3 separate regions of the Homo sapiens genome follow, and all the other regions are linked to region 1. Evidence: fine-mapped expression QTL. A gene starts in region 1. Each other region holds a variant in brackets. All regions are shown on one strand. Distances are from middle to middle.

Region 1 (9,942 bases):
TTCAATGGCCCCATCACGGTCGCTCTCATAAATGAGTGGCTCCTTCTGCTGCCTCCGTTTCAGCTCAGAGATGAGGTCCATCTGTGGCCGCCGGGCCTTTGGCGGTGACTAGGGGGAATTTATAGCTCCAGCTCCAGGATGCCTCCCCATCACCAAAACCCTGGAATATCTGCCTGGTCCCCCACAGCAAGGACAGCTGGCTTGAGCAGAAAGAACCCTTTCCCATCCCAGGCTCCTGGGGCAGGGTCAGTCTGTAACAGTGAGGGTGTGGGGGTGGCACCAGAGGGTGATGAGATGCCATGCATCCCTGCAGCCCAGTACCAAGCCCAGGAGCAGTTGCCTACCTTGGGTGCTGGGGGCTCCCCTTTGCCCGGGGTATCAGCGCCTGCCTCCTGGGCAGCGGCTTCTTTTTTCCACTGTTCCACCTCCTGCTCAGCTTTCTGTGGGCCAAGGCAGTCTCCATGAGGGTGGCCCTCCCTACTGCCCTACCCACCCCCTAAACAGAAGCAGCCCCACCCCTCCGCTGCCCAGTAGAAAGGCTTCAGTGCCCTACAGGGCTCCCAGCCTGCCCCAGACCCGAATACCTTGTAGGCCTTAATGAAGCGGCTAAAGAGGGAGAAGAACAGGCCTGGGGATGTGGTCTTGGGGTTCTCTCCGAAGTACTCCACCACAGACTCAAAGGCCTCCTGTGGGCACAGCCTGTCAGCCCCCCAGCTTAGACCTCTCACAGCCTGTACCCCTCAGGACACTGGCCACCTGATCTGAGCTCCTCCCAGGCAGGGTGGCCCCTCATTCCTGCTGCATCCCCCCAAGGGGTCCCAGCTACGGCCACACCCCTCCAGGCTGTGCTATCTAGTGCTCCTACATGCCCCACCTCCAGGTGAGGCCAGCCCTGGCGCACCTGAGCCGTCTTGCTGTCTGCCAGCAGCTTGTCCATGGTGGGCGAGTTGGCCCTCAGGAACTCCTTGAGCACCATGCAGTCATCCTGCCGCACAAACTCTCTCTGTGTCAACTCTAGGCCTCGCTGCAGGGAGCGCACGTCCGCCAGGACACTGTCCAGGGACACTGGGCCAGGGATGGGGCAGTATCAGGTCAGTGAATCGGAGAGGCAGCCCTCCCACCAATTATATACTGTGGCCCCCTAGCTTTCTCCCAACCTACCCCAGCCCACGGCCCCTCCCCACACCCAAGGATCTGTGTGTCTCCTACCTGAGCCCGCCTTGTCCAGGAAGTGCAGGTCGCTGTGGAAGCCTGTGAGTTGCGGGTACTTCTCAGCAATGACCTTCACCAGGTAGTGCAGCAGCGTCTGCTTGCGATCAGTCGACTTCATCTCCAACAGCTGCACAAGGACCCATTGTAAGCCACAGGCCACCAGCCAGTCCCCAGCCCCAGTCCCCAAGCCAGGGGCCCCTCCTCACCGCATCCAGGCTCTGGAGCCGGAAGCCATAGGCTGCCCCACGCTTGCTACTGTTCATGTAGTTGCCAAAGGCCAGGACAATCTGGGAGAGGCAGGAGAAAGGCTCAGCAGAATGCCAGAGCTGAGGACACCGCTTAAGCATATTGCACAAGGAGGAGAAGAGGTGGCAAGGAGCAGGCCCCACACACTCAGCCCCTACTGTACTCCTGCACAGGCCCCTCAGATCCACAGCACATGTACATGTGTGTACACACAGGTCTCACACATGTGCACGGTTAACACCATGGGCACACCAAATTTTGTCCTCTGCTAGTCCAACCCACAACTTGTTGCCAGCATCCCCTCCTAGTCTGTGTGGTCACTGCCTGTCCACCAGCCATTTCTACTGGTTCCCGGGCCCTCCACTGAGCAGGTGAGGTTGCTCACAGAGCAACGCTAAAGGGGACTGAGCCCTCCGGCAGGGTCCCAGGTGAGCTGCTACAGACACGGCTGCTGTACCCCTTCCCACTCGCCACCACCCTTAGATTTGTCCTTCTCAGCATGTACATGAGAAGTGGGAATGTTATCTTTGTTGCATTGCAGGTGAGCAGGGCCTGGGTCTCCCTCTCACACTATCCAGAACAGGCAAGGGTGGGCCCCACCTCCTGGCCCCTCACCTCCAGGATCTGGCGGAGTTTGTCAGAGGACTTGATGGACATTGAGGCTGCAATGATGGCATTCAGTTGCTGGGGGTGGGATGGGGGAGGTAAGATAAGTTGGAGCCTCCTCCATCTGGAGGCTCAAGTACTCCCAGGTTCCCTGCCGCAGCCCAGGCTGGGAGTTGCCTCCTGCCCATCCCCTCCCAAGTCACACCGCCCTGCCCGCTCCGCCCACACCGGCATGAGCAGCTGGGCTGTGTCCGGGAAGTTGCCCAGGAAGGTGAGTGTGGTCATGCGCTCCGGCAGGCGCGGGATGCGGCTGAAGCATAGCATGAAGCGGTCCTCCTCTGACAGCTCCTCCATTGGCCGCTGCTCCCGCTCAAAGCGGGTGATGAGGCTGCGCTCATACTCTGTGGGCAGGAAGCGCATCAGCAGCTCCAGGAAGTCCAGGCCCAGAGCCTGCAGGTCGTACCTGTGAGAGGGAGGAGAGGGGAGATTGGGCATCATCCATACCCACCAGTCCCTGGGAGCAGGGCTACCCCTGCCTTGATTGAATAAATGAATTTCAGTATTTTCTATTTGCCAACAGCTTCAGAGAGCAAGAGGTAGGAATCCAGAGAAACTGGGAACTGGGAATCCAGAGAAACTGGGAACTGGGCAGCCAGGGTCCCCATCGTACGTCAGCGGCGGACGCCCGGCTGTAAATCCCACAGCCTGGGTGCTCACAGCTAGGCAAAGAGGCAGGGAGGAAGTGGGACATCCTAATTTAGGCATGGACTGAGTTTTCTCCACCTTAAAATGGGGACAAGTTTCCTGGACCAGGGTTGGTATGAAGCCTGATGAAAGAGCTCACCATTGAGGCTCTTTTACTAGGATCTGCCTGACAACCCCAGCCTAGCAAAGGGGCCGGACTGCCCACAAACCCAGGACAGGGACACTCACGCCTCAATGGCTTGGCAGATGCGCTCGGCCCCCAGGTTGCCCTTCCGCAGGGTGATGGCCAAGTTCTTGGCCCGGTTGGCCTCAATGAGTGTCGCCTTGCTGGGGGCCTTCTGGGCTGCCTTACTCTTGAGAGCGCTGAGGTCCAGGCTGGGGCCTTGGGACTTGGTCTTGAACTGTTCCTCAAAATCACTCATGTCTAGCTCCTGAAGGTACAGGGTGAGGAGGCGGAGCTGGGTGGGGCTGGGGTCTGGCACTCTCCTGGCTGAGCACAGTGCTAGAGCCATCCATCTGGCCCTGACCAGGCCACCAGCAGAGAACCAGTAACCCAGCCTGACCACAGGCCCTGATGGGAGGCACAGGGGAAGCACAGGGAGCCTGGAGGAGGAGGGCCGCCTAACCCGGGGGATCCAGACTTGGGGCCACAAGAGCTAAAGGAAGAGCTGAACTGGCCAGCGGTAAAAAGGAGAAAGGAAAAGACATTCCAGGCAGAGGAAACAGAATGGAACAATGGCCTAGAGGCAAGAGAATACATCCTTTTGGAAAACTGGAAGTGGAATCAGGAGGGCTGAAGCCTTGGCTGCCTGTGGGAAAGTGGAAGGAAAGAGGCCTGGAGGCAGAAGAAGTGGGGTGAGGGGAGGCACCCCTCTGCAGGGATGGAGGGGAAGGCGTTTGGGAAAGCAGGATTCTGCCTGTTAGAGGTATTGGTCCAGTCTGGCTTAATGCCCATCCCTGGGCCTCCCCCTCCTCATCTGTGAAATGGCTTGGAGAAAATGACTACCCCCAGGGCCCAGCCTGATCCAGGCAACTCCCCTCTTCCTCCGGTGCCCACATGGGGAGCCAGGCAGGGCCACTCACCTGCAGCACCTTCTCATCATTGAGCTCTGTGAAGACAGTGCCGGTGATCTGGCTGGGTTTCAGTGCCACCCAGTTCAAGAGTGGCATTCGGAACTTAGTCTGGATGGGCTTCTTGGCCTTCACTCCTGGGACGGGGGTTTGGGGGCAGTGGTGAGCACTGGGGGTACTACTGGAGGGAACCTGGGCCCAGGGAGGGCTGATGGGGCAGCCAGGAGGCAGCAGGAGGCCCCCAGGCAGAGGACCCTGGAGGACACTGAGGCCCAGGCCCCTCCCTCCATCTCCCCCCAGCCCCGGGCCCAAGGTGGTCCACTCCACTCACCTGGGCCCAATTCTGAGTCGCGTCTTCCTAGGGCATCAGGAGGACCTCCGGGAGGCGGCGGCGGCGGCGGCGGCGGCGGAGGCACCGGCCCGTCAGTGCCCGGAGGTGGTGGCGGTGGCGGGGGTGGGGGCGGCAGGTCTCCGGGCAGCGGCGGCGCAGGCGGGGGCTCCGGGCTGCCAGGGAGAGGCGGGGCCTGTGGGGGCGCAGAGGGCGGGGCTTCCTGCGGGGAGGGGAGGCCGGGCAGTGGGGGCGGCGGCGGTGGCGCTGCTCCGGGAGCCGGCTCTGCTGCAGGTGCGAGATCTGAGCCAGCGAGGGCGCGGCGTGGGGGAGGCGCGAGTCAGCTCCTTGACTTGGGTGGGCCCCTCTCCGCCTCTCCGCTCTACGCATGCGCTCCTACCTGAGCCGAGCCTACAATCCAAACCTCCCTCGCCCAACTCTGCCCGCCACAGATGCCCCTGGGCTCCCCTCCAGACCCTGCCCCGCATCCCCGCCAGCCTGAAGCTCCTGCGCACCTGGGCTGGGGGAGCCGGTCGGCACCCCCGGAGTCGGAGCATCACCGCCGCTCGGAGTTGCCACAGCGACGGGGAGGATCTCGATGGAGACAGCATCCCCCGGCCCCCGCAGAATACGGATTAACCCCTTCTCCTCCAGCTCCTCCACCTTCAGCTCCAGGGCCGAGGGCCGCGTCGGGGCAGCGGGAGGCGCTTTCTCAGGCTCTGGGGGACGCCTGGAGGGCCCCATGGCGGTCGATTCGCTGAAGCGCTCCTACGAACCCCACGGGAGGGGTCAGTGCCCACCAGCAGGCTCCTTGGCACCAAGCCTCCATCTTCTTCCCGGGGTGGAGGGAGATGTCAAGCCTAGAAGCCTCAGCTGGCCTGTTCTTGGGCGCCTGGCCTACCACCCGCCCCAGCCTCACCCGCAGGGTCTCCAACTCCTTGCGCGCCTGGCTTAGCTGTTTTTCCAGTTCTGCAATCTTGGCCATGGATTCGTTCTCCGCGTCCCGAAGCCGCTCTGTCAGCTGTAGCACCAGCACATGGTGAGCCCCGACCCGCAGCCCGGCACTGGCACCGCCGGTGAGGGGGCGGCATCAGGCATGCCTGCCTGGAAGACTGGGGGAGGCTCCCAGATCCGCTCAGCCCAGGTGCCAAGGGTGGGCCGAGCCTGGCACTCGAACCCAAGCAAATAAGGAGAGGAAACCAAGGTACCAGTGATGCGGGAGGTGGAGGGAGAGGAGGAGACTGAGCTGGGAGGGGCCCCAGGCACCCATTTCAGTTCACCTGGGGTCTGAGCCTGGGTAGAGGAGGGGCCTGTCAGTGAGGGTGCTCACCCACACTCATTGAGAAAGACACCCAACAGATTCAGGCTTTGGATTCAGGCCAGGCTCTGGGGCCAGGCAGGCAGCACCTCCAATGCACAATTATAACACTGTCTGCTGCCCAGTGCCCATGCTTGCGTGGCCCTGTGGCCCGTGTGCCCTGTGGGCCTATGATGTGCTGGGCTGGGGTCAGGACCCACTCTCACCAGCGCCACTTGCTCCTGCAGTTCCTCCATGTGCTCCAGCACAGCGTTCTTGGTCTCTGTGTCCTCCAGCAGCGCCCCCACATCAAAAATATTGTCCAGGTACGCCTGGATCTGCACCTGCAGCTTGTCACTCTCGGTGAGCCGAAGCCTCTGTCCCCCAGATGGAAGGAGTGGGGTGAGGCCTGGTGTGTGTGTGGGGGGGAGTCTTTCCAAACCACCCCCCTGCCACCACTGCCATCCAGAGGAAGGGGCCTGAGCCCTAGCCTACTTTTTCTTTATTTTTTAATATATAATTCACAAATCATAAAATCCATTTTAAAGTGTACAATTCAGTCATTCTTAGTATAGCCACAAGGTTGTGCAACCATCACCATTATCTAATTCCAGAACATTGTCATCAGCCCAAAAAGAAACCCCACAGGCGTCAGCAGTCACTTGCCATTCTCTCCTCCCCCAGTCCCTGGCAACCACTAATCTACTTTCCATCTTTATGGATTTACCCATTCTGGACATTTCATATAAAGCAATCATAGATAGCTGGGCGAGGTGGCTCATGCCTGTAATCCCAGCACTGTGGGAGGCTGAGGCAGACGGATCACCTAAGGTCAGGAGTTCAAGACCAACCTGGCCAACGTGGTGAAACCCCCGTCTCTACCAAAAATACAAAAATTAACCGAGTGTGGTGGTGGGCACCTATAATCCCAACTACTGGGGAGGCTGGAAAATCACTTGAACCCGGGAGGCAGAGGTTGCAGTGAGCCAAGATCGTGTCACTGCACTCTAGCCTGGGCAACAGAGCAAGACTCCATCTCAAAAAAAAAGCAATCATAGAGTACGTGACCTTTTGTGTCTGGCTTCTTTCACTTAGCATGTTTTCAAGGCTCACCCATGTTGTACCATGTGTCAATACTTCATTCCTTCTTGTGGCTGAATAATACTCCATTGCACAGATAGACCCCCCCGCCAGCCTGCTCTCTACCTTTTGTTAATCCTGGCTTTCAAAAATCCAACCCCGAAAGCCCCGCTCCTCCAGGAAACCTCCCAAAGGAAGCAGAGAAGGAGCTGCAGCTTCTCTGCTCAGCCTGGGCCAGGAAGCACCAAGCAGCTCTGCCCACCTTCCCCAGGGCAGGGAACTCCTCCATGTCCTGGGCCCATCCAGCATGAGCCAACTCCTGCTTCTACCCTGTATCTCTGGGTTCCCCATTATATGCTGGAGTCAGAGCACCTGTCTGAGGCTGGTGCTCCCAGAGCCAGACTCTGGGCTACCTTGACCTGTTCTGGTGCCTGCAAAAACAGTTCCATAGACTGGGGGCCTGGTATGTGCCAGGCACTGGTCTATGCATTTAGAGTCAAGATTATCTTCTATGATTCTCCTATTTCACAGATGGCAAAACTGACACTGAGAGAGAGGAAGAGGCCTATCCAAGGTCACACGGCAGGCAACGGCAGAGCCAGGATTTAAACCCAGGTCTACCTGACCCCAGCACTCATGCTGCTAACCACTCAGCCATACTCTGCCGTGGGCAGGCAGTTCAGTCTGGGGGGCAGTACAGGGCTTACCTCCAAGTACAGGTCCAGGCCCAAGTGGGTGAACTCATATTGCAGGAAGACACGGAAGTTCATGTTCTCCACCGAATGTACCACAATGTTGATGAACTGCATGCAGGCCACCTGGGAGCCAGGGACATGGGGAGATCTATGATCCTCTAGGTGGGGTTGCTCAATGCCTTCCACCTCCACTTACCCCAAGCCTCCCTCCTTCTCCACAGTTCTCACTCCACTAACTCCCAGCCTTGGCCTGCCCAACATTTCACCTCCATGTTCCCTCAATCCAGCCCCCTGCCAACATCCACCCTTCCCCTACTGACCACTCAGTCCTTACGCTTTGCGGGGGCAGAGCCCATTGCCCAGCACCCAGGACCCTAGCTGCTCCCTGCACCCAAGAGGGCCTGGCCCAGGCCTCAGGCTGCTGGGCTCCTGAGCTCACCATGAAGTCGATGTTGCTGTCCTCATTCCGGAAATATTCCATCAGCTTTTCAAAGCGGTGCTGCTCCCCACACACCTGGGTAAGGGGAATGGCTCTCACTGAGGCCCAGTGACACACGTCCTAAGCTACCTTCTGGCTGCCACACCTGTGCTTCAACAGGCTCCTCTCCAGTTAATTCTAAGTTGAGCCACGTCACTCTTCTGCTCAAAACCTCCACTCCCTCTCAATCTCCCACTCTCCCTCACTTTTTCCACTCTGGCCACACTGGCATCCTGGCACATTCCCACCCCAGGGCCTTTGCACTTACTGTTCCAACTCCCTGGAGTGCCCTCACTCCCACACCAAGTCCCTTGCTTCCTTCACAGCTTTGCTGAAATCTCACTTGCTCAGTGAGGCCTTCCCTGACCACCCTGCAACCAATTCCCCCTCCCTCTGCAACATTGCTGGCTTTTTTCTCACAGCATTTATCATTTCCTAACATACTATGTAATTTGCTTGTTTATTATATCGTTTCTGTCTTTCCCTATATGGTTTCCTTTGTTCACTGATGTGCCCAAGTGCCCTGTTCCTGACACATAGTAGGCACTCAATAAATATTCATTAAAGGAATGAATGAATGAAGATATCTTGTCTTATGCATCTTATGCAGCCCCACACATCTACTTCTTGCAAGCCTGTTAGCCAGAGTCCGCAACTCCTGGAGGTATGAACCAAGGCTAGTTTGGATCTGGCAAGGCTGAGTCAGAGGTTCAGCAGGTCCCTGTAGTTGTCCCTACCCCCACCCAGGTGGTGCCCTTACCTGACCCTGTACCTTCCATTCAGAACTTCCCCATCCCAGATTGCTGAGCCAGTGATGTGGCTCAACTTCAACTTTTGGGCGTTCCCCAAATGCCCACCCAATGTCCCCAGCTGCCTCCAGCAAAGGCCACAACTGCCAACAACAAGACTCCAAGCAACACCATAGGGGGAAATGCATGTTTGGGTGAGGGACTCCGGTACCTCCTTGAAGTTGTCAAAGGCTGCAAGGATGATGTCATGTCCTCCCCGCACCAAGCACACGGCCGCCAGCAGCTCCAGCACCAGAGCCTTGGTTCTGGAGAGAGAAGGGGCAGGTTGTCCCTTGAGAACAGGCAGGACCCGCGGCAAGGGTGGGCACAGGCCTGGCTAGGAGGAGCATAGTGGGTGCAGAATGAGCCTCTGAGACCTGGAGGACAGAGTAAGCAAGGGGCTAAGTAGGAGAAGACTCTAGATACGGAGAAAGGTTTGGGGCCTGGACCTCACCTGGGGTTCTTGTTGTTGAGGCTCAGAGCAATCTCATTGACACAGGCTGGGTGGTTCATGACAAGGCTGAAGCCAGACTGGGGAGAGAGGAGAGGTCAGTGTCTCCAGGAAGGGCCCCCCAGGACTTCAGGCACCCACGCCACGTGGATCTTTAACTGCCCTCGAGTTTAGGAAGTTCTTTGTATCCAACCGCAACTTCTGTGGCCACCAAAACCTGGCCTTGTTTCTATTTTTTTTTTCAAGATGGAGTTTCCCTCTGTCACCCAGGCTGGAGCGCAGTGGCGCCATCTCAGCTCACCGCAGTCTCTGCCTCCCGGGTTCAAGTGATTCTCCTGACTCAGCTTCCCATGTAGCTGGGATTACAGGCACCTGCCACCACACTCAACTGATTTTTTTTGTATTTTTTTCAGTAGAGACGGGGTTTCGCCATATTGGCCAGGCTGGTCTCAAACTCCTGACCTCAGGTGATCTGCCCACCTTGGCCTCCCAAAGTGCTGGGATTACAGATATGAGCCACCACGCCTGGCCTCTCTTTATTTATTTTTTATTTTTTTATTTTCATAGAGATGGGGTTTCAGTATGTTGCCCAGGCTGATCTCAAATTCTGGGTTCAAGCAATCCTCCCGCTTCGGCCTCCCAAAGTGCTGGGATTATAGGCATGAGCCACTGCACCTGGCCTCTTTTTAAAAACCTTTGTGTTTCCAAAAGCCAGCATCAGGCACCTTGGAAACCGTGAAGCTGGCTTAAAGGCGGGCTAAGTAAAGGAGGACCCAGCTTCACCCATCAGCCCTCCAAATGAATCGACCCGAGGCTGTTCTCCCCTGGCCCTCCGGCCAGCCCTTCTTGGTAGGTGAGCCCAGTCCCTATGTGAGGCTCCTTCATGCCCAGCCATGGGCAGGGGTACTCAGAGAACCTGACAGAGGCAGCAAAAACATGGGCTTCCCCTCAAGACTCATCAGCCTTAAAAGCCTGAGCCAACAGC
Region 2 (9,942 bases), 48 kb before region 1:
CAGAAGAAAGAACCAACAGTGTCTGTGCATCAGGCCTCAAAGAATATGGAGTGAATTCTGCTCCTTTCCTTTCCTCTTCTGATTTCTTGGGCTTATGGGTGAGCCATGTGGGTTTGGCTGTTGCCACTGCTCGTGTCCTCAACTCTTATGCAGAGAGTAGAGGGCCCAATGCCTTTGGGGCGTGAATAAGCTGAGGAGAGTGTCTAGGCTGAGGAATGAATCAGGAGTTTGACTTGCCTTCAAAGGCAGAGACATAACTGGCTCCCACTTCGTCCTCCCCACACGCTGCAGGAGGGAGAAGGGGCAAAGTGTTAGGGCCATGAGCTGGGGTGACAGCCAGAGACCAAAGTCCAGGGCTGGGAAGGCCCCCTGGCCAGTAGTCCTGGACTTAGTACAGAACCATGATTTTTGTAGACCAGAGTCCAGATAGAATTAGGAAAGGAGGGAGGGAGCAAGTGCATCCGTATGTGTGTGTGTCTGTGTGTGCATGTGTGTGTGTGCATGTGTGTCTGTGTGGGAGGTGGTGTTTGGGGAGAGCCACTGTCAGGCCAAAGTGTCCCAAGAATAGCCTCTTGAACTTGGAGGCTGTCGGTGAGGGTCTGAGTCATGGTGATGTGGCACAGAAAAGCCAGCCACAGGAGGAGCTTTACAGCTCCCAGGCCGTGATTTGTGCCCCTGAGAGGTGAGGGTCAGCCTGTTTTCCCCATGTCCTTCACAAGTTCAGCTGCCATCTGCTGGGTCAGCTTCTCAACAGCCTCCTTGTTACTGTCTGCCTGCCAGGCTGTTGGATGAGTCATCGGGGAACTGCAAAGGAGTCTCTGAGCGTGGCTGCCTCAGCCTCAGCTTCCACTTCTCTGGGAAGAGGGGAGCCTGGTGTGCTCACAGAGGGGCGCTGGACAGCTGCCTACCTAACACCAATATGAAAGGACAACTCTGGGACTCGGGATGCCCTGCACCCCCTCTGGAGGAGTTCTAGCTCAGGATGACCTATCCAGAAGCCTCCGTTGGGCCATGCCAGGCGGAGACAGGCTATCAGAGCCCCCACACAGCCAGATCTCTAATAGCCACGTGCCCCTCAGAGCAGCAACTGCACCACCTGGCCTCATTTTTCTCATTCATCAGGCAGGACTCTCTCTTCCTCCTCAGCATTCGGGATCATCCTGTCTCCAAAGGTTATGGAAAAGCAATCTTTGTCCTTTGAGTCCCTCGTTCAGCCAGCGTCAGTTGCGTGGTCTGTGGCCCCTGTGCTATACACTGGGGAGGCACTGTGTGCAGGGCCCCACCTCTTCCCTCAGGAGCCTGTTGACCAGGGAGGACCTTAGTGTGCCCTCCTGCATTTGCCTGTAACCCAGGAGCTTGGGGAGTGGGCATCATAGCCTAAAGAACCTAGGGTCTGGATCCTGGCCATGTCCTGTCACACGTGGGTTGGGTGACCTTGGGCAAGTCTCCACTGAATTAGGCCTCAGCTTCTTCAAATAGAAATGAGGAGGTCACGCTCACATCGAGCTCCCTGTGAGCATTCCCTACTGCTGTTAGGTTTGGAGACTTTTTGGTCTGTTCTTAAGATCTCATTTCCCCTGGTAAAGAGGCTGAGAACAGTGGGATCGGCTCTGGGCTTAGGTCAGTTTCTTTTTTGGAGGTAGAGTGGGGTGGGGAGGTGTGAGGTGGGATGAAAGTACAGTTACAAGAAGCATAGCCAGCCTTGAAGGGCTTTTGCCTAATTGGATGTCAGAACACCCCTTAGACTTTTTTTTTCTTTTAGAGACAGGGTCTTATTCTGTCACTCAGGCTGGAGAATGCAATGGTGCAATCTCAGCTCACTGCAGCCTCAACCTCCTGGGCTCAAGCATTCCTCCCACCGCAGCCTCTAGAGTAGCTGGGACTACAGGCCAGCTACCCCAGCTAATTTTTTGTATTTTTTTGTAGAGACAGGGTTCCACCATGTTGCCCAGGCTGATCTTGAACTCCTGGGCTCAAGTAATCCTTCTGCCTCAGCCTCCCAAAGTGGTGGGATTACAGGCATGGGCCACCATGTCCGGCCCCCTCAGACTTCTTAAGATCCTCAGGTAACAGTGAGGCCACCCATTCAGCCTCCTCAGCATCTGGCGTTTGGTACCAAATCCAGGCATCCTTGCAGGAAGCTGGAGCTGCTCCAAGTTCAGAGCTAGGAGACCCTTAAAGACAGAGATGCAAGGAACTAATCAATAGTGAACAACAAACCCCACCACACCCGCCAGCCAAGCTGGCAGAGCCTTTCATAGCCATCGAGGTGGGAAGACCAGTGAGGCAGATTCAGAAGGAGGAATGCTTCAACCTAGTACCTCAGCTTCCCACCATCTCATTCAGTCCTCAGGCCTCACAGGGCAAAAGGCCAGAGGCCTTAGAGTTCAGCTTCAGATGGTGTACCTGTCTGCCCCAGAAGCAGAGAAGTGATCCAGGGTTCACAGAGTTATAGCAAGGAAGATGATTTCTGCTGGTAGCAGCTTTAAGACAAACCTACCATCAGAGAGCAGTTATTAAAAATCTGTCTGCATTTGGGACCTTCTCAGGCTGTTTCTAAAGCAAGTCATGCCTGAGAGGGGCCCTGCCCTTTAAAAACTCCCAGCCTTTAAAAAGGTTTCCAAATGGTAACAGTCTCAAATCAGTGCTCTTCTCTTTTTTGCCAATTCCAGTCTGCAGGCTGTTTGCACAGATTGTTGGCAACTCTGGGTTGCTCTTCTTTGCAGCTTCCTAGGGCTGGGCAAGACAGAACCCAGAGAGACGTGAATTCTTATGCTTTATTCTTTATTTCTAGAGGTATAGGTTCGTGTTAGGGCCTTGAATATAAATTCTACTCCTGATGTTGCCTGAATGAAAAATGATACCTAGAAGTTTTCAGCCAATGAGTTTGGACATTAGAGGAGGAAGCATGTTAGTTCCTTCTGGAGAGCCACAAACAGACGCATTGGGCAAGGAACCACGTGCTGAGCACCATTTGCATGCTGAGTTTTAGACTTTGTAGGACACACACACACACACACACACACAGATATCTACCTCCTACTAGGGAACAGAATAGAACCTTGCTTCTCTCCACTTGGAGAAAAGTCGCTGTGGATGGTGTGTGCCAACAGGTCCTCTCCAAAGGCTTATGTGGGGTCAGTGAGGCCATGGTTTTGGAGTCTGGGATTCACCACCCTGTCCTGGGGAAACAAAGTTTGCCATAAAACAACAGAAAAAGATCGAGCCATCATAAAGGCAAGAAAGAGCCAACCCAGACATTTGTGCCACAGCTCTCCTAGAGGGAGTGGGCTGGCATCCTTGCTGGACACAGTGAAGGAGGCTGTTTATGTTGTGGTACTGGGAGGACCGGGGGACTGTGCCGTGTGGAACGTGTAGCTGTTGAGAGGTGGACTCTGTTACCATTGAGGATGTTTGGAGGATGAGTATGTGTGGCAGAGGCACACATAAACAGGCAGAGACCCTTTGCCCCTGCCTTTCTCCCCCAACCCAAGGCTGACCTGTGTTCTCCCAGGTCTGGGATTCTAAGTGACCTGCTCTGTGTTTGGTCTCTCTCAGGATGAGCACAAGCCTGGGAGATGGCAGTGATGGAAATGGCCTGCCCAGGTGCCCCTGGCTCAGCAGTGGGGCAGCAGAAGGAACTCCCCAAAGCCAAGGAGAAGACGCCGCCACTGGGGAAGAAACAGAGCTCCGTCTACAAGCTTGAGGCCGTGGAGAAGAGCCCTGTGTTCTGCGGAAAGTGGGAGATCCTGAATGACGTGATTACCAAGGGCACAGCCAAGGAAGGCTCCGAGGCAGGGCCAGCTGCCATCTCTATCATCGCCCAGGCTGAGTGTAGGGGCCTAGGGTTGTTGTGGGCACGGGGCAGGTGGGTGGGCCTGCAGGTGGGTAGCTGGGCCCAGGGGTTCCCTATGGAGGAGAGAGGTCTGTGTCACTGCTAGATAAGATTCTCATGAGACACAACCAGAGGTCTGTGCCGAGAATCATGGAAAGTGGGGTTGTAAAAGTGCACAGATGGTGGATGTGGCAAGGGGAGACTGTGCCCATCGTGACTGGAGCAGGGGAAGAGAGGTAACAGACGAGCACTCGGGACTCTGCAGAATCATCAAGCAGGCCATCAACCTTCTGCTGTGACCTTGAGCAGCCCCAGTGTCTGGAGAGGCTCCAGACAGGAAAGGCCAGGTCTCCTGGAAAGCCCCACTGGGGCCTGTAGGGCCTTCACCATCTTCCACCTAGAGGTGGCCCCACCCCCAGGAATGAGCACC[G/A]TGCTCTTGAGCCTGCTGGGCCAGTCCTGGGGCGGCAGGCTGCTGCAGGGTGAGACCTAGTCTGGTCCTTTCTTCTTCTACTCATGATACCTTATGATGACTAGTAATGGTGGCTTCCCTTGGAGACAGAAACTCCCACGAGGCCTGGGTAGGGCCGGGAGTCCTCTCTCTCCAACGCCTTCCCTCAACCCGGGAGGCTTCTTGGGGTGGAACCTGGAGAGCTGGACAGCCATGCTGTCATTTCTCCACACGCATACATCCTGCCCTCGTCTCCCACTTCCTCCTGGTTGGTTTTTGAGGAGAGATGAGAGAATAAAAACTAAAATACAGAGAGTGACATAATAATTGTTTTAAAAAAATACACATATATCCACACTTATATGTACACACATATATAAATACCTAATAGCTGTTTTTCCTATGAGCCAGGCACTGTGTTGAGCATTTTCTGTAGATCATCTCACTTCAGCTTCATAGGAAGTGAGGCGGGCGCCCTGTGATCCCCATAATATAGGCTTGGCTATTTCAGAGCAGGTGGCTGAGGCCGTGGTCTGCTCTTGACCAGTAAGCTGAGAAGCTGGGGAGAGACAGTGCGGGAAGGAGGCATTGGTGGGGAGGTGACTGCCAGACAGGGGTTGTCTGGAAAGGAGGGGAAGGAGAGGCGCCAGAGGGGATCTCTGTAAAATGTCTCTCCCCTAAGTGCTAAATTCCTATTTTTTCTCCTCTCTGCTAATCCAACTCCTTTTGCTTTAGGTGAGAATAGCCAAGAGTTCAGCCCCACCTTTTCAGAACGCATTTTCATCGCTGGGTCCAAACAGTACAGGTAAGCAGGGGAGACAAGCCTGAGTGGGAAGGTGGGGACTGGACCCAGCGCCCTCGTCCCCAGCACTTGCCTGGGCCGCTCCTGCTGACCCCGGGCTCCCTCCCTCAGCACCTGTGGTTCAGCTCCTGGAACTCACCCAGGCTTTCCTGGCTGAGCCGCTCTCTCAGCCAAATAAGCTTTTCAAAGGCTTTTCACAGCTTGTGGCTGACTGCCTCTGGGCCACATCAACTTGACATTTTATTTTTATTCTCCTCAGAGTCCTTAATGCACCCCCTCGTTTCCCATCAACAGGGAGGGTGCTGGGAACAGAAGCTGCTTCCCACTCTTGCGTGACCGTGAGCGCAGGCCGGGTTGGTGGGGGGGGCCTTCCACTGTCCTCTATGGGAGAAACCTGCTGGTGCCTTTTCTCCTGGGAGATGCACCGAGTAGGGATGCGGGCGGTAGAAAAGGAGGGGACAGATAGACTTGGTGGCCCGGTAGAAAGGAAGCCAGGGTGGGGCTGAGTCTGTTCCCAGGCTCTGCATTCCCCCACAGATGATTTTTTGAAACAAGAGTTCAAGTGCTGGGCACAATGGCTCTCACCTATAATCCCAGCACTTTCTGAGGCCGAGGCAGGTGGATCACGAGGTCAGGAGATCGAGACCATCCTGGCCAACATGGTGAAACCCCGTCTCTGCTAAAAATACAAAAATTCCCTGGGCATGGTAGCGCATGCCTGTAACCTCAGCTACTCAGGAGGCTGAGGCAGGAGAATCGCTTGAATCCAGGAGTCGAAGGTTGCAGTGAGCCGAGATTGTGCCACTGCACTCCAGCCTGGTGACAGAGTAAGATTCTGTCTCAAAAAAAAAAAAAAAAACAAGAGTTCAAGCTAGAAACAGCTCCTTCCCCTATCACCAGGCAGGTTTTGTATCATTGGAGTTTGGAACCTGCTAGTGATAAGATTGTGGGGAGGGCAGCTGGCTGCCTTGGAACCAAGAAATGCTCAGTTTGGTGGGATTCCTTCTGCTGTCCTGGGTGCCTTTTGGCCCAGGGTAGGAGCCTCTGATAGACACACTTCTTTCAGCTGTCCAAGAGAAGCCTGTAGGCCTCCAGTGGTCCCCAGGACTGCCATGAGTCTGCCTTCTCCATGGGGGCAGAAGATGAGGCCAAGGGAGGGTGGCTGAGGCCATGATCTGCTCCACAGCTGTTCTGCAGCAACCCATCTGTTGCCGGGTCCTTTAATACTTGGCAGGGATCCCAGTCCAGTTAGAGCCATGGCAGTGATGAGCCCCGAGGCCAGCAGAGAAGGGCAGGCTCCCCAGTACCAGGCAGCAGCCCAGGCTGTTCACCTTCAACAGCAGCCAGGGACCCCCAGGAACTGTGAGAATGGAGGTGACCAGCCTTACCTGTTCCTCCATCCGGAGGCAACAGAAACAAGCTCTGCTCAGTCAGAGCTGAGAGGCCTGCCATGAGCGTGGCCCCCTCCTAGGAACTCTCCAGGGGCAGCTCACCTTGGAGAGCAGTGAGCGAACCGTGTCTGCTCCCCTGACTCTCCCCAAGAAGTGCTGAGTCTGTACCCCATCACCATAGTAACAAGCACAGCTTCTCGGCAGCTTGCCTTGGGGCCAGACACTGAGCTGGGCTTTTTAAATGAACTAAATTATTGAAACTTCATTTCCACCCTGTATGGCAGAAAATACCAAACCCATTTTATAAGTGAGATAAGTGAGAAAACAGGTTCCTTGGGATTTAGAAACCTTGCCGCATTCACACAAGGAATGGCAACCTGGGATTTGACCTTGGATCTGCAGGAGTCCAGATACAAGTGTCTGGACCAGTCCATCTTCCTGCTTCCTCGTGCTCAATATGCAAATCTGTCCCTTTTGTGACAGCCAGTCCGAGAGTCTTGATCAGATCCCCAACAATGTGGCCCATGCTACAGAGGGCAAAATGGCCCGTGTGTGTTGGAAGGGAAAGCGTCGCAGCAAAGCCCGGAAGAAACGGAAGAAGAAGAGCTCAAAGTCCCTGGCTCATGCAGGAGTGGCCTTGGCCAAACCCCTCCCCAGGACCCCTGAGCAGGAGAGCTGCACCATCCCAGTGCAGGTGAGACCCTCCACCCACTGCCCAGACCCCAGGTTCATGGGGCCTTGAAATTGGAGCCTGTCCCTGGGCCCTGGCCCTCTGTGCTGATAGCTGTGTTTCCCCCCGCAGGAGGATGAGTCTCCACTCGGCGCCCCATATGTTAGAAACACCCCGCAGTTCACCAAGCCTCTGAAGGAACCAGGCCTTGGGCAACTCTGTTTTAAGCAGCTTGGCGAGGGCCTACGGCCGGCTCTGCCTCGATCAGAACTCCACAAACTGATCAGCCCCTTGCAATGTCTGAACCACGTGTGGAAACTGCACCACCCCCAGGACGGAGGCCCCCTGCCCCTGCCCACGCACCCCTTCCCCTATAGCAGACTGCCTCATCCCTTCCCATTCCACCCTCTCCAGCCCTGGAAACCTCACCCTCTGGAGTCCTTCCTGGGCAAACTGGCCTGTGTAGACAGCCAGAAACCCTTGCCTGACCCACACCTGAGCAAACTGGCCTGTGTAGACAGTCCAAAGCCCCTGCCTGGCCCACACCTGGAGCCCAGCTGCCTGTCTCGTGGTGCCCATGAGAAGTTTTCTGTGGAGGAATACCTAGTGCATGCTCTGCAAGGCAGCGTGAGCTCAGGCCAGGCCCACAGCCTGACCAGCCTGGCCAAGACCTGGGCAGCAAGGGGCTCCAGATCCCGGGAGCCCAGCCCCAAAACTGAGGACAACGAGGGTGTCCTGCTCACTGAGGTAACTAATCCCCCGGCACCTGTATATGTCCCTCTACCAGCAACCTGGGGGATGCTTTTCTCTCTTTATCAGAGTCACTCTTGCCTGTGGTGACAAATCAAACAGTAGGACAGTGCTCATTGTGGATGAAAAGTATCATCTCTTATTCCGCCAATCTCACTTCTCACAGCCTTTTTAGCGTCTTCTGTTCTGAGTTCTTCTGGTTGGTCACCTCCTGCTTGCTGAATGTGGGCACTGCATTAATAGTACACATGCTGAGGACAAGGGGAATCAGCCAGGAGCCACTGGAGATGTTATCATGGCCCCCAGAGACGGAAGATGAGGATGGGACCTGTTTTCACCACCCACCTCCTTCCCTTTTTCCTCTTGTTAACTTCCCAAATAATTTTATAACTTTAAATGATTTTATCAAACTTTGATTTCCGGGTTTTATTCCATCCATCCACTTTTTTTTTTTTTTTTTAATAAATGTGTTTTTTGAGACAGAGTCTCACTCTGTCACCCAGGCTGGAGTGCAGTCGTACAATCATAGCTCACTACAGCCTCCGTCTCCTGGGTTCAAGCAATCCTCCTGCCTCAGCCCCCCGAGTAGCTGGGACTACAAGCGTGTACCACCACGCCCAGCTATATTTTTTTTAATAGAGATGAGGTCTTGCTATGTTGCCCAGGCTGGTCTCAAACTCCTGGGCTAAAGCAATCCTCACACATTGGCCTCCAAAAGTGCTCGGATTATAGGTGTGAGCCACTGCACTGTCTTATTCCATCCACTTTTTAATTTTTTAATTTTTTTGTTTTGTTTTGTTTTGAGACAGAGTCTTACTCTGTCGCCCAGGCTGGAGTGTAGTGGCACTATAACAGCTCACTGCAACCTCCCCCTTCCAAGTTCAAGTGATTCTCCCACCTCAGCCTCCCGAGTAGCTGAGACTACAGGTGTGCACTACCATGCCTGGCTAATTTTGTGTTTTTTGGTAGAGACAGGGTTTCACCATGTTGGCCAGGGTGGTCTCAAACTCCTGACCTCAAGTGATCTGCCCACCTTGGCCTCCCAAAGTGCTGGGATTACAGGCGTGAGCCACCATGCCTGGCCCCTCCATCCACTTTTAACATCATCCTTGACCCCCGCCCCTCTTCACTGTTCCTCCCTTCCCTCCACCTTCTAGCTCCTGAGTTTTGTTTTTTCATTGTCAAGGTGATTGGCAGTTCTGTTTCTGTCTCACCATCACAAGTCTGGGATGTTTTTCATCACAAGGATCAGTGGCCGCAGCCCATGAACCCTTCCCTCGCCTTCACTTCATTCCTCTGCCCCCTCTCTGGTGCTGCCCGGCTCAGATCCCTGCCTTCGCCCCAGGGCTGCCTGGTTGTGAGGGCTCAGCTCAGCAGCCCTGGCAAGGTCACCAGCTGGAGAGTCTTCCTCACTGTAGCCCTGTAGCCCTCTGCTGCCCTGGCCACTGAAACTGTCCTCTCTCTCCTGCCAACCCCAGAAACTCAAGCCAGTGGATTATGAGTACCGAGAAGAAGTCCACTGGGCCACGCACCAGCTCCGCCTGGGCAGAGGCTCCTTCGGAGAGGTGCACAGGATGGAGGACAAGCAGACTGGCTTCCAGTGCGCTGTCAAAAAGGTACGCCAGGGCTCAGGGGCTGAGTGAAGAGGGAAGCCAGGAAGGGGGCCTGGTGTGTTCCCTCTGCTTTCTGTCCAGGACAGTCGCAGGGTGGCCGTGGGTCTGACTTGTGAACAGAACTTGGCTATCACTAGCCACCTGAGGTCGGCTGGAACTGGAAGGGAGCAGCCTGTCACGTGTCCTGGCCTGGCTGCTGCCCCTGGCATGTGTGTATGTGAGAGGCAGTGTGAGAGGACACACGTGGCCTCGGTGTCTCAATACAGCCAGGGCCTGAGGGGCAAGTCCCAACGTGGAAGATGGTTGGAGCGTCATGAAATTCACACTGAGGTAAAACCCCTGAACCACATAGGAGGCCGCCCCTGACCTGGGCCAGATGATAGGAAAGCAGTAGCCTCCACCTGTGGGGTGCTTCTAGGAGGAAGCCAGCCTC
Region 3 (9,942 bases), 59 kb before region 1:
GCATTGAGTCACCGTGTAAAATTCTATCATGTAGGTTTGAGGATCCCTATATTACAGATAAGACTCCTGAGTCTCAGATTATGTGACCTGCCCATGGTCACACACCAGAGTATTGAGAAACTAAGATTCAAACTCAGATCTTCTGACTCCAAGGCCATCCTGTCATGTAGCTGAATGGCCATTCCTCAGGATTAGTAAGTAATATGTTGGAAGAAATTACCTCTGAGGGTCTTTCTGATCCTAAGAGCACTTTGATTATTCCTTTATGATTTATTTATCCATCTACCCATTTTTTCCCCATCTAGACTATAGGCATGTTGAAAGCAAGGATAGCATCTTCACAGCAAATAAATAATACAATGTTTGGAAACCACCTATCTGATGCTATCTACTTCTCTGACACATAGAAACAGGAGAAAAGATATAACCCATTAACAAAAGAGTCACCCAGAAATTCCAATCCCAAGAGCTTACCACCTAGAATTCCTTCTACATGTACACATAAATGTGAATAAGGGTAGAGTTTTTTCCATTATTACGTATAAGTGAAAAATTGGAAACAAAGTTTCCAGGTGGGAAAATGATGATACATCTGTACCTTCCAATCTTATGAAGCCTTAAAAAGAATGAATTAGAGGTCAACCATGGTGGCTCACACCTGTAATCCCAGTACTTTGGGAGGCCAAGGCGGGTGGATTGTTTGAGGTCAGGAGTTCAAGACCAGCCTGACCAACATGGTGAAACCCCGTCTCTACTAAAAATACAAAAATTAGCCGGATGTGGTGGCTGACGCCTGTAACTCGGAAGGTTGAGGCAGGAGGATCACTTGAACTCGGGAGACGGAGGTTGCAGTGAGCCAAGAATGGGCTGCTGCGCTCCAGCCTGGGCGACAGAGCGAGACTCCGTCTCAAAAAAAAAAAAAAAAAAAAGAAAAGAAAAGAAATAAATCTAAATGTGCTGAGATGGAATAGTATTCATAGTATCTTAAGTGAAAGATACAATTTGTATGACATTACATGTGTATAATCCATGTTTCTTTTAAAAATAGTCCCAAACTAGGCCAGGCACGGTGGCTCACGCCTGTAATCCCAGCACTTTGGGAGGCCGAGGCGGCTGGATCACGAGGTCAGGAGATCAAGACCATCCTAGCTAACACGGTGAAACCCCGTCTCTACTAAAAATACAAAAAAAAAAAAAAGTCCCAAACTATATGTTTATATATGTATAGTAATTGGAACTAGAAGGATTTACATGAAACTTAAGTGTTTTTTATGTTGCAGAGAGGACGGGACGGTGCCGGGATTTTTTTTCTATATACAATTTTGTTTTGTTTACATTTTTACAATGAACAATTATTTTGGTATTGGAAAAAAATTTTTGAGATGGAGTCTCACTCTGTTGCCCAAGCTGGGGTGCAGTGGTGCAATCTCGGCTCATTACAACCTCTACCTCCTGGGCTCAAGTGATTCTCCTGCGTTAGCCTCCAAAGTAGCTGGGATTACAGGTGCCCACCACCACACCCAGCTAATTTTTGTATTTTTAGTAGAGACGAGATTTCCCCATGTTGGCCAGGCTGGTCTTGAACTCCTGACCTCAAGTGATCCACCCACCTCGGCCTCCCAAGGTGATGGGATTACAGTCATGAGCCACTGCACCTGGCCTGAAAAAAAATTTTTAAGCAAGGTTAAAGATCACATATAAGAAAGGCAGGAGAGGCTAGCTAGGAAAACTGTCCTCCCTTGGGTTTCCCAGACTAGGACTAACCCTGCGATTCCCACCCCTTTGCGCAAGCAGTGGAGGAAGGGCTGGTTTTTTTCTCCCTGGTCCACTTCTGCTGTTTTTCACTCTGGGGGGCCACTCTTGCCCAGGGGCATGTGGTCCATCCAGCACTAGCACGGGCCTGTAACCACGCATGCATTTGCCATTCGATAAATCAAAGCAGGAAACAGTCCGCATCTTCTGAGCACCTTCCTATTTCTTGAGTCACAACTGATAAAACTCTCAGTCCTCAGCAGAGAACAAGGGAGGGAATGAAATGAAAACCAAAACCAGGAAGGACAAGCTTGCCCATCTCCAGCCTTCTGTTTTGCGGCCCAGCTGCCAGAACTCAGTGAGCAGAACAGAAGAGCCACAGACTTTCTGGTGAAGTTTCCTGCCCACACATGGGTTTGTGCTTGCATGTGTGTGCATGTGCGCGCACACGGTTGGAGAAACCAGCTCATCACATATTTATAAAGCCCCAATCTCAAGTGTGGACCTAATGCTTCCTAAATTCTCATCCCATGCCAAGAGATTCTTTTTTAGTTGTTTTCATGATTAAAAAGTAATACTTGGCCGGGCACAGTGGCTCATGCCTGTAATCGCAGCACTTTGGGAGGCCAAGGCAGGCAGATCACTTGAGGTCAGGAGTTTGAGACCAGCCTGGCCAACATGGTGAAACCCGGTCTCTACTAAAAATAGAAAAATTAGCCGGGTGTGGTGGCAGGCGCCTGTAATCCCAGCTGCTCAGGAGGCTGAGGCAGGAGAATTTCTTGAACCCAAGAGGCGGAAGTTGCAGTAAGCCAAGATCGCACCGTTGCACTCCAGCCTGGGCAATAGAGTGAGACTCCATCTCATAAAAATAATAACAATAATAAAAATGAATAAAAGTAATACCTACAGAGAAAATCAGTAGAGGGAGATACAAGAAACTGTTAACGGGGATCCCCTTATAGGAATGGAGGGAAGGACTCATGCTTTTCAATGGCACCCCTTCTGTATTTTTTTTTTTAACCACTTAGAAACATTATCTGTTAAAAATGAGAACCAAGGTCGGGCGCAGTGGCTCATGCCTGTAATGCCAGCACTCTGGGAGGCTGAAGCAGGTGAATCTCATGAGCTCAAGAGTTCAAGACCAGCCTGGGCACCATGGCAAAACCCTGTCTCTACCAAAAATACAAAAAATTAGCCAAGCGTGGTGGCACGCACCTGTCCCAGCTACTTGGGAGACTGAAATGGGAGGATCACTTAAGCCTGGGAGGCAGAGGTTACAGTGAGCTGAGATCGTGTCACTGCAGTCCAGCCAAGGTGACAGAGTGAGACTGCATCTCAAAAAAAAAAAAAAAAAGAGAACTGAGAAAACTAATATGTGCTCACTGAAAAAGTGGAAAAATTAGAAAGGTATAAAAAGAAATATTAAATCATCCATAAGCCCACCACCAAAAGAGAACCATTGCTATATGTCCTAGGTATCTGCATTTTTATAAATATCATTGTAATATACCGACACATGTATATAGGGTCGTATTTTAGATATGCTTCTGTATCCTCTTTCTACTAATTTAATATCCCATTTTTCCATATTGTTAAAATGATTTATAAACATTTTTAATGGATGTTCCATGATTTATTTAATAATTATCCTTCCCCTGTAATTAGACTTTTTTGTTCCAGTTTTTTTACTGTTATAGAAATACTGTGAACTTTTTTTTTTTCTTGAGATGGAGTTTCGCTCTTGTTGCCCAGGCTGGAATGCAATGGCATGATCTTAGCTCACTGCAACCTCCGCCTCCCAGGTTCAAGCGATTCTCCTGCCTCAGTCTCCTGAGTAGCTGGGATTACAGGCATGTGCCACCATGCCTGGCTAATTTTGTATTTTTAGTAGAGACGGGGTTTCTCTGTGTTGGTCAGGCTGGTCTCAAACTCCTGACCTCAGGTGATCTGCCTGCCTCGGCCTCCCAAAGTGTTGGGATTACAGGCGTGAGCCATGGCACCCGGCTTTTTTTTTTTTTTTGAAACAGGATCTCATTCTGTTGTCCAGGCTGGAGTGCAGTGGCGTAATCATGGCTCACTGCAACCTTGCACTCCTAGACTAAAGCAATCCTTCCACCTCAGCCTCCTGAGTAGCTAGAACTACAGACACGTGTGACTATGCTCAGCTAAGTTTTGTATTTTTTTGTAAAGATGGGGTCTCACTATATTGCCCAGGCTGGTCTCAAACTCCTGGACTCAAGCAATCCTCCTGCCTTGGCCTCCCAAAGTGCTGGTATTACAGGCATAAGCCACCATGCTCAGCCCTAAACATTTTTGATTATGCTTTTTTCTGTTTTTTTTAATTTGTTCCCTACTTAGATTGCAATTCTGTGAGTTGTGCACACAAAAAGTGGGTATCTTCACTTGCTATGATGCTTTATTGTTCCCAGAGTTCCTTCATCTACATTGTTTCATTGAATGAGTAAAAGGGAGTGGGGGTGTCAGGACCAGGAGGAGGATGAGGATAGAGGAGACAAGGTGCTGTGGGCAGGCAGAAAAGGAGGCCGTTGTACAGTGGAGCTGATGGGAGGAACTTCCTGGGTAGAGGCTGAGCCTTGCCTTTGAAGGACAAGCAGGATGTATGGGGTGGCCCACACAACAGCATGGCACACATGGGACCTGGAGAGTTGAGTAGCCAAGGGGTTGTAGAGAGATCAGACTGGCCAAAGCCAAACCCTATGTTTGGGGAAACAATGGCCAAAAAGATTATGGACCACAGAGCTGAGACTGAGCCCATAAGCAGTGCAGAGCCAGCAGATGTCTTTGAGCTTGAGGTTGTCTTAAGTACACGATGTTTCAAGATTAGCTCAGCGCCAGGGTGGGAGGTCAGAGAGAAGCTGGAAGTGGGTAAGACCAATGCCAATAGAATAGATGCGAGGGAATTGCCCTAAACATCTGAAGGGGCCTTATAGACAGTAGTTTCTGCACGGCTAGGGCCGGCCAGCCATCATCAGGCATGTGGTGGTAATTGCAGGACAGTCAGAAACTTTACCCCATAAATTGTATTTACCCTGCAGTTTGACCTGTGGGATTGGCAGCAAGACTGAGTTTTGTTTTTTTGAGATGGAGTCTCGCTCTGTTGCCCAGGCTGGAGTGCAGTGGCGCGATCTCGGCTCACTGCAACCTCCACCTCTAGGTTCAAGCAATTCTCTCATCTCAGCCTCCTGAGTAGCTGGGATTACAGGCACGCGCCACCATGCCTGGCTAATTTTTGTATTTTTAGTAGAGACAGGGTTTCACTATGTTGCCCAGGCTGGTCTTGAACTCCTGACCTCAACTGATCCACCTGCCTCGGCCTCCGAAAGTGCTGGGATTACAGGCGTGAGCCACCATGCCTGGCCGAGACTGAGTTTTTGAGGGCATGTCAGATTTGTTTCTTTTTAATAATTGATCTGTAAGATTTTAATGATTAATGTACCTTCACATTTCATATCCTCCTTAATGGGAAATGCTTATTCAGAAATTACTCTCCTGGGAAGCAGGCCTCAAGCAGGCCAATGAGTCCAGTTCTGAGGTTCCTCCAGCTGCGTTTCACTCACAGTGCCTGAGTGCAGGCCCCAGTAAGGCCCCTTCCTCCTTCCTCAGACATCTGTTTCTATGTCCCAGGGATCACATGGCCATTCTCCTTCTCCGCCTGAGGGAGAGAGTGAAGCAAGCCTTTCAGAAGCCTGTCACTTGTCAGATTGTTAGCCCAGGCCAGGGTGGGGGTTCTGTACCAATGGCAGGATTTTCTTTTCTTTTTTCTTTTTTTTTATTTTCATAAAGACACAGTCTTGTTATGTTATACATGCTGATCTCAAACTCCCAGGCTCAAGTGATCCTCTTGCCTCAGCCTCCCAAAATGCTGGGATTACAGGAATGAGGCACTGTGCCTGGCCAGTGCCATCTGCCCCTACTCTGCAGCTTCTGCCATCTGGAACTTTACCCCCAAGAGTCTGGGAGGAATGTGGAATTATACCCCGCTCACTCATCTGAGAATTTAAACCCTGGGGGTATATGAGGATCAAG[C/T]GTGTGTCCATGGTCTGATAGCTGAACTTCATCTGCAGCCTCCTCTCCTGGGACTGCCTGACTTACGCTTTACTCACTGACAACTTCAAGCTGCTGGTGATTGCTGCATTGACTCACCTCTGTGCCTTACCTTTTGCCATCCCCTCTACCCAGAACACCCTCTCCTTTTTCTTGGGCAGGTCTTGCTCACTGCTTCAGACTCAGCTCAGGCATCACCTCCTGGGCTGGACTAGGTGTCGCTCTGTGTTCCCGTCACATCTGCTGTGTGTCTATCTCTGTCATTGCATCCCTGTATTGTACTGAACTCTTCTGACTTCTTGTCTGTTTCCCCCAGTAGACTGTAAGATCCTCAAGGGACAGTGTCTTCTTCCTCAGTGTACTGCCAGCACTCAGCACGGGGCCCAACACCCAGCAGACCTAGTACATGCCCAGGAACTGCCACGCATAAGATCCTTGCTCTGCAGCTAGACAGGACACTCTGGGGCCAAGACCTTACTCAACATAAAGCCTCAGCCTGCCTCCAGTCATTGGATTTGGAGGCTCTTTATCGGGTGCCTAGAAGTGATTATATCTTTTTGTCTTAAGTATTTTGTCTGATACGAATATTACTTCTTTGTGGTTAATATTGGCCTGGCACATCTCTTTCTATGTCTTTATTTCCAACTTTTCTGGATAATTTTGTTTTGTTTCTTTTAGTCAGCATCTAGCTGGATCTTTTAAAATCCAATCTGGTTTGCTGTTTTGTAATCTACTCACATGTACTGTGGTTAATGACATGCTAATATTTTGCCTTATTTCTGCCATCTTGTGTTTTTATTTTATATTTATTGTCCTTTTTGCTTCTTTTTTCCTCCTTGCCTTGCCTTGTATCAGATTGACAGCATTTTCTATTTTTCCTCCTTTATTCTTCTGGTCTGAATTGTATTTCTATTATTTTAGTCATTACTCTTAAATCAACATACATACTAACTGTAATTTTTTCTAATAAAATTTAAAAGTTGTTGTACATAAAGTCCCCAAAAAGGCAAGGATCATGTTACTTTTTACCCATTGAACAACCCATTTCACCCATCTTCCTTATTGTTGGTGTCTAGATTTTCATGTTTTAAAACGATTTAAACTGGCCAGACATGGTGGCTCATGCCTGTAATCCCAGCACTTTAGGAGGCCAAGGCAGGCAGATCACCTGAGGTCAGGAGTTCGAGACCAGCCTGGCCAACATGGGGAAATCCCATCTCTACTAAAAATACAAAAATTAGCCAGATGTGGTGGCACATGCCTGTAATCCCAGCTACTCAGGAGGCTGAGGCAGGAGAATCACTTGAACCAGAATGCTGAGGTTGCAGTGAGCCAAGATTGTGCCACTGCACTCTAGCCTGGGCGACAGAGCAAGACTCCATCTCAAAAAAAAAAAAAAAAAAAAAGATTTAAACCAATTTCTCATATTCAACTGTTAATTAAATTGACCAACATATTGTTTGAGTTCCTGTGCCTACCATTGTTTCTTTTTCCTATTTACTTTTTTCTTTGCAAAGTACATCCTTCAGTGGTTCTTTCAGTGAAGGCAGTGCCACCTTACCTAGAACTCCTGTTTGTGTATGTGTGTATTAGATGTGCATTTGTTTGATTGTTTCAAGAAAATGAAACGACCTGTTAAAACCATCAAGTTAAGTCATAACACATAACATAACAGGATTTAGTGGCGTAACTGAACTAAAAGTCTGACAAATTGATGGCTGATTCAGCCCTGACTTGACAAGACCCCTCATCAGTAAGGGATCTTCGTCTGCTTCCTGTCTACCTGGGCTAAGGAATTATTACCAACAGTAGATGGGCAGATGCTAGGGGTAGTAATATCCACATGGGTAGTAATACTGCTCAGTTCCTGGATGTTCTAGATGCCTCTGCCAACCAGATTTTATTCTAGGAAGGAACTAGAGATCCTTGGGTCCTAAGAGAATGGGCCAAGAGTGTCCTGGCTTGAGCCCTAACTCCATGTTGGATGCTCTAACTGTATAAATTGAGCCTCATTTATTCCTGTAGGTAATGTACCTCTCTAAGCCTTAATTTCTTCATCTGTAAAATTGGAGATAATATTGCCAACCTTGCAGGGTTGGTGTGGAATGCATTAACAAGGCAGATAGAGTTCCTGGCACAGTGCCCCATACACAGAAGACATTTATGGACGGTAGTGGCTATTACATTCCCTGGCACTTGGGAGACACTCATTGAATGTTTATAGGGTGGATGCAGAAGCCTACCATAAAAGGCTTCATTGAGTAGATAGGCCTTAAAGGATAGGTGAGATCTGGGCAGACATTGATAAGGGAGGAAGGCAAGCAGCCACTCCCTATGGGAGGAACAGGGTGGGCAGAAGAAGAGAATCAGAGGCTTGCCCAGTGCTGCCCTGCTCGGGCAAGTGAAGGAATCAGTCTGGAACAAACTGGGGGAAGGGCTGTAGGAAGGGCAGAAAGGGTAGAAAGGGGAGTCAGGATGAGCATGTATGGGGACTTCTGAGTCTGCCTCGCCAGATGGCTGTTTTGCCAGGCCAGCTTGCTCTGCCTGATACTTGCCCTTGGTTCCCTCTTTTTTTTTCCCCTCCTTTTCTTTCTTTCTTTATTTTTCCTTTTGAGATGGGGTCTTGCTCTGTTGCCCAGACTGGAGTGCGGTGGTGCAGTCATGGCTCACTGCAGGCTCAAGCAACCCTCCTGCTTCAGGCTCCCAAGTAGCTAGGACTACAGGCGTGTGCCACCATGCCTGGCTAATTTTTTAATTTTTTGTAGAGATGAAGTCTCACTATGTTGTCCAGGCTGGTGTCAAACTGCTGGTCTCAAGTGATCCTCCTGCCTTGGCCTCCCAAAGTGCTGAGATTACAGGCGTGAGCCACCGCACCCAGCCCAGCCCCGCACTTTGAGTAGGCAGAGGTTTGCCTATTGTGGCCTGGTGGCCAGGCAAGCTGAAGACTTAAAAGAGGAAGTTGGGAGAAGATTGGTTTTCAACCAATATCTTATTAAGGAAGTTGAGTCATTCTACTTCTGCTATTTATCCCCTCTGGGCATTCAGAGAAGGACAAGTTTTTACTTCCAGATGAAATAGTCATGAGAGGGATTTGCCTTGGCCCCTTGTAGACATTTTCAAGCTGGCCCTGTAAGACAGAGTTTTATTTCCCTTTCGTGTATGGAGAATCAAGGCTCCAAGCATTGCATGAACTAGGTAAGGCTCAAGATACCTTGGCTATATGGTGCTGAAACAGAGAAGTCCCATCTTCTCAGTGATGGCTTTTAGTAGCCTGGTGACAGACAAGGGAATGAACATTCATTTAGCCTCTTCTGTTGGCCAGGCAACCTGATTGGCATTTCATGTACTCGTCTTCATTCGGTCTTCAAAACAGCTCTGAAGGAGCTAAGAGAAGAAACTCAGAGAAGTTAAAAGAAGTGGCTAGCTCAAGGTTTAGATGTCGGCTTAGGAGGCAGCAGTCTAGGTTCAACCCCACCTCTGCAACCTGCAACTGCGTAACTTTTGGTGTGCTACTACACTTCCCTAAGCCATATCTTCATGTCTGAAAATGAGATGACAGTAGGTACTTTGTAAGTATCGACAGTTAGTATTCTGAGTTGGAGTTGTCCAGCCCTCAAAGAATCCTGACAGATGGGCTACATTCTCAGAACTAGAAGGAACCTCAAAAGATTTCCTAGGCCGCTGGTTTCCAAACTCTTTTCTTGGAGAACTAGGGATTTTGTAGAGGTCCTCGGTGGATGAAGGGACACTGAGCATGTGGAGCTCCTTCAGCCAGGGCAGCGGGTTCAAATGTGAGTTACATGCCAGTTGCATGCATCTGGTTCTTTTAGTTATTGGGAGATGAGGTATGATTTCATTTGACAAAAATGGTCCCACTGCTCTTCTTAAAAAAAAAAAAATTGTTAAGGCTAGAACCCATAGCTTCTGGTTCCCAGTCTGGAATTTTTACTATGTTGTACTTGCTAAAACAGGGAACTGAATGAAATATGATATATTCTAAAAAGGTTATCATCTGTGAAGATTAACATTTAAAACATTGTTTTTGTATCTTCCAGTGAATCAAAAATTTGTTTACTGTAAACCCCATTCCTGCCCCAGAATCCTAGGAACAGAAATTTTACTGTC

The links.
Region 2: its variant is fine-mapped to the expression of FMNL1-AS1 in whole blood (INTERVAL, PIP 0.96).
Region 3: its variant is fine-mapped to the expression of FMNL1-AS1 in whole blood (TOPMed, PIP 0.97).

What each region holds. Positions count from the first base shown.
Region 1 is chr17:45,236,376-45,246,317 of GRCh38, reverse strand. It overlaps FMNL1-AS1 (FMNL1 antisense RNA 1), which reads left to right and starts at 4,548. Exons shown (of 3, transcript NR_186808.1): 1 at 4,548-5,207; 2 at 5,714-5,828; 3 at 7,077-8,300. FMNL1 (formin like 1) reads right to left here. Exons shown (of 27, transcript NM_005892.4): 8 at 8,961-9,037; 9 at 8,679-8,772; 10 at 7,680-7,754; 11 at 7,253-7,363; 12 at 5,693-5,842; 13 at 5,088-5,189; 14 at 4,684-4,936; 15 at 4,172-4,471; 16 at 3,853-3,977; 17 at 2,998-3,200; 18 at 2,293-2,527; 19 at 2,074-2,142; 20 at 1,419-1,499; 21 at 1,210-1,339; 4 more. It also overlaps the pseudogene EFCAB15P. RefSeq lists a silencer at 670-840 and an enhancer at 4,438-5,156.
Region 2 is chr17:45,284,382-45,294,323 of GRCh38, reverse strand. MAP3K14 (mitogen-activated protein kinase kinase kinase 14) reads left to right here. Exons shown (of 16, transcript NM_003954.5): 2 at 3,559-3,834; 3 at 5,019-5,088; 4 at 6,960-7,170; 5 at 7,279-7,893; 6 at 9,375-9,512. The coding sequence starts at 3,579. Among named protein-coding and RNA genes, the nearest start is that of SPATA32, 27 kb to the right of the region's middle. RefSeq lists silencers at 547-841, 3,650-3,853 and an enhancer at 547-841. The variant G/A (reference allele first, on the strand shown) is at 4,266.
Region 3 is chr17:45,294,998-45,304,939 of GRCh38, reverse strand. All of the region lies in intron 1 of MAP3K14 (mitogen-activated protein kinase kinase kinase 14), which reads left to right. Among named protein-coding and RNA genes, the nearest start is that of MAP3K14, 17 kb to the left of the region's middle. RefSeq lists enhancers at 1,962-2,011, 5,752-5,901, 9,194-9,253 and a silencer at 4,932-4,981. The variant C/T (reference allele first, on the strand shown) is at 5,800.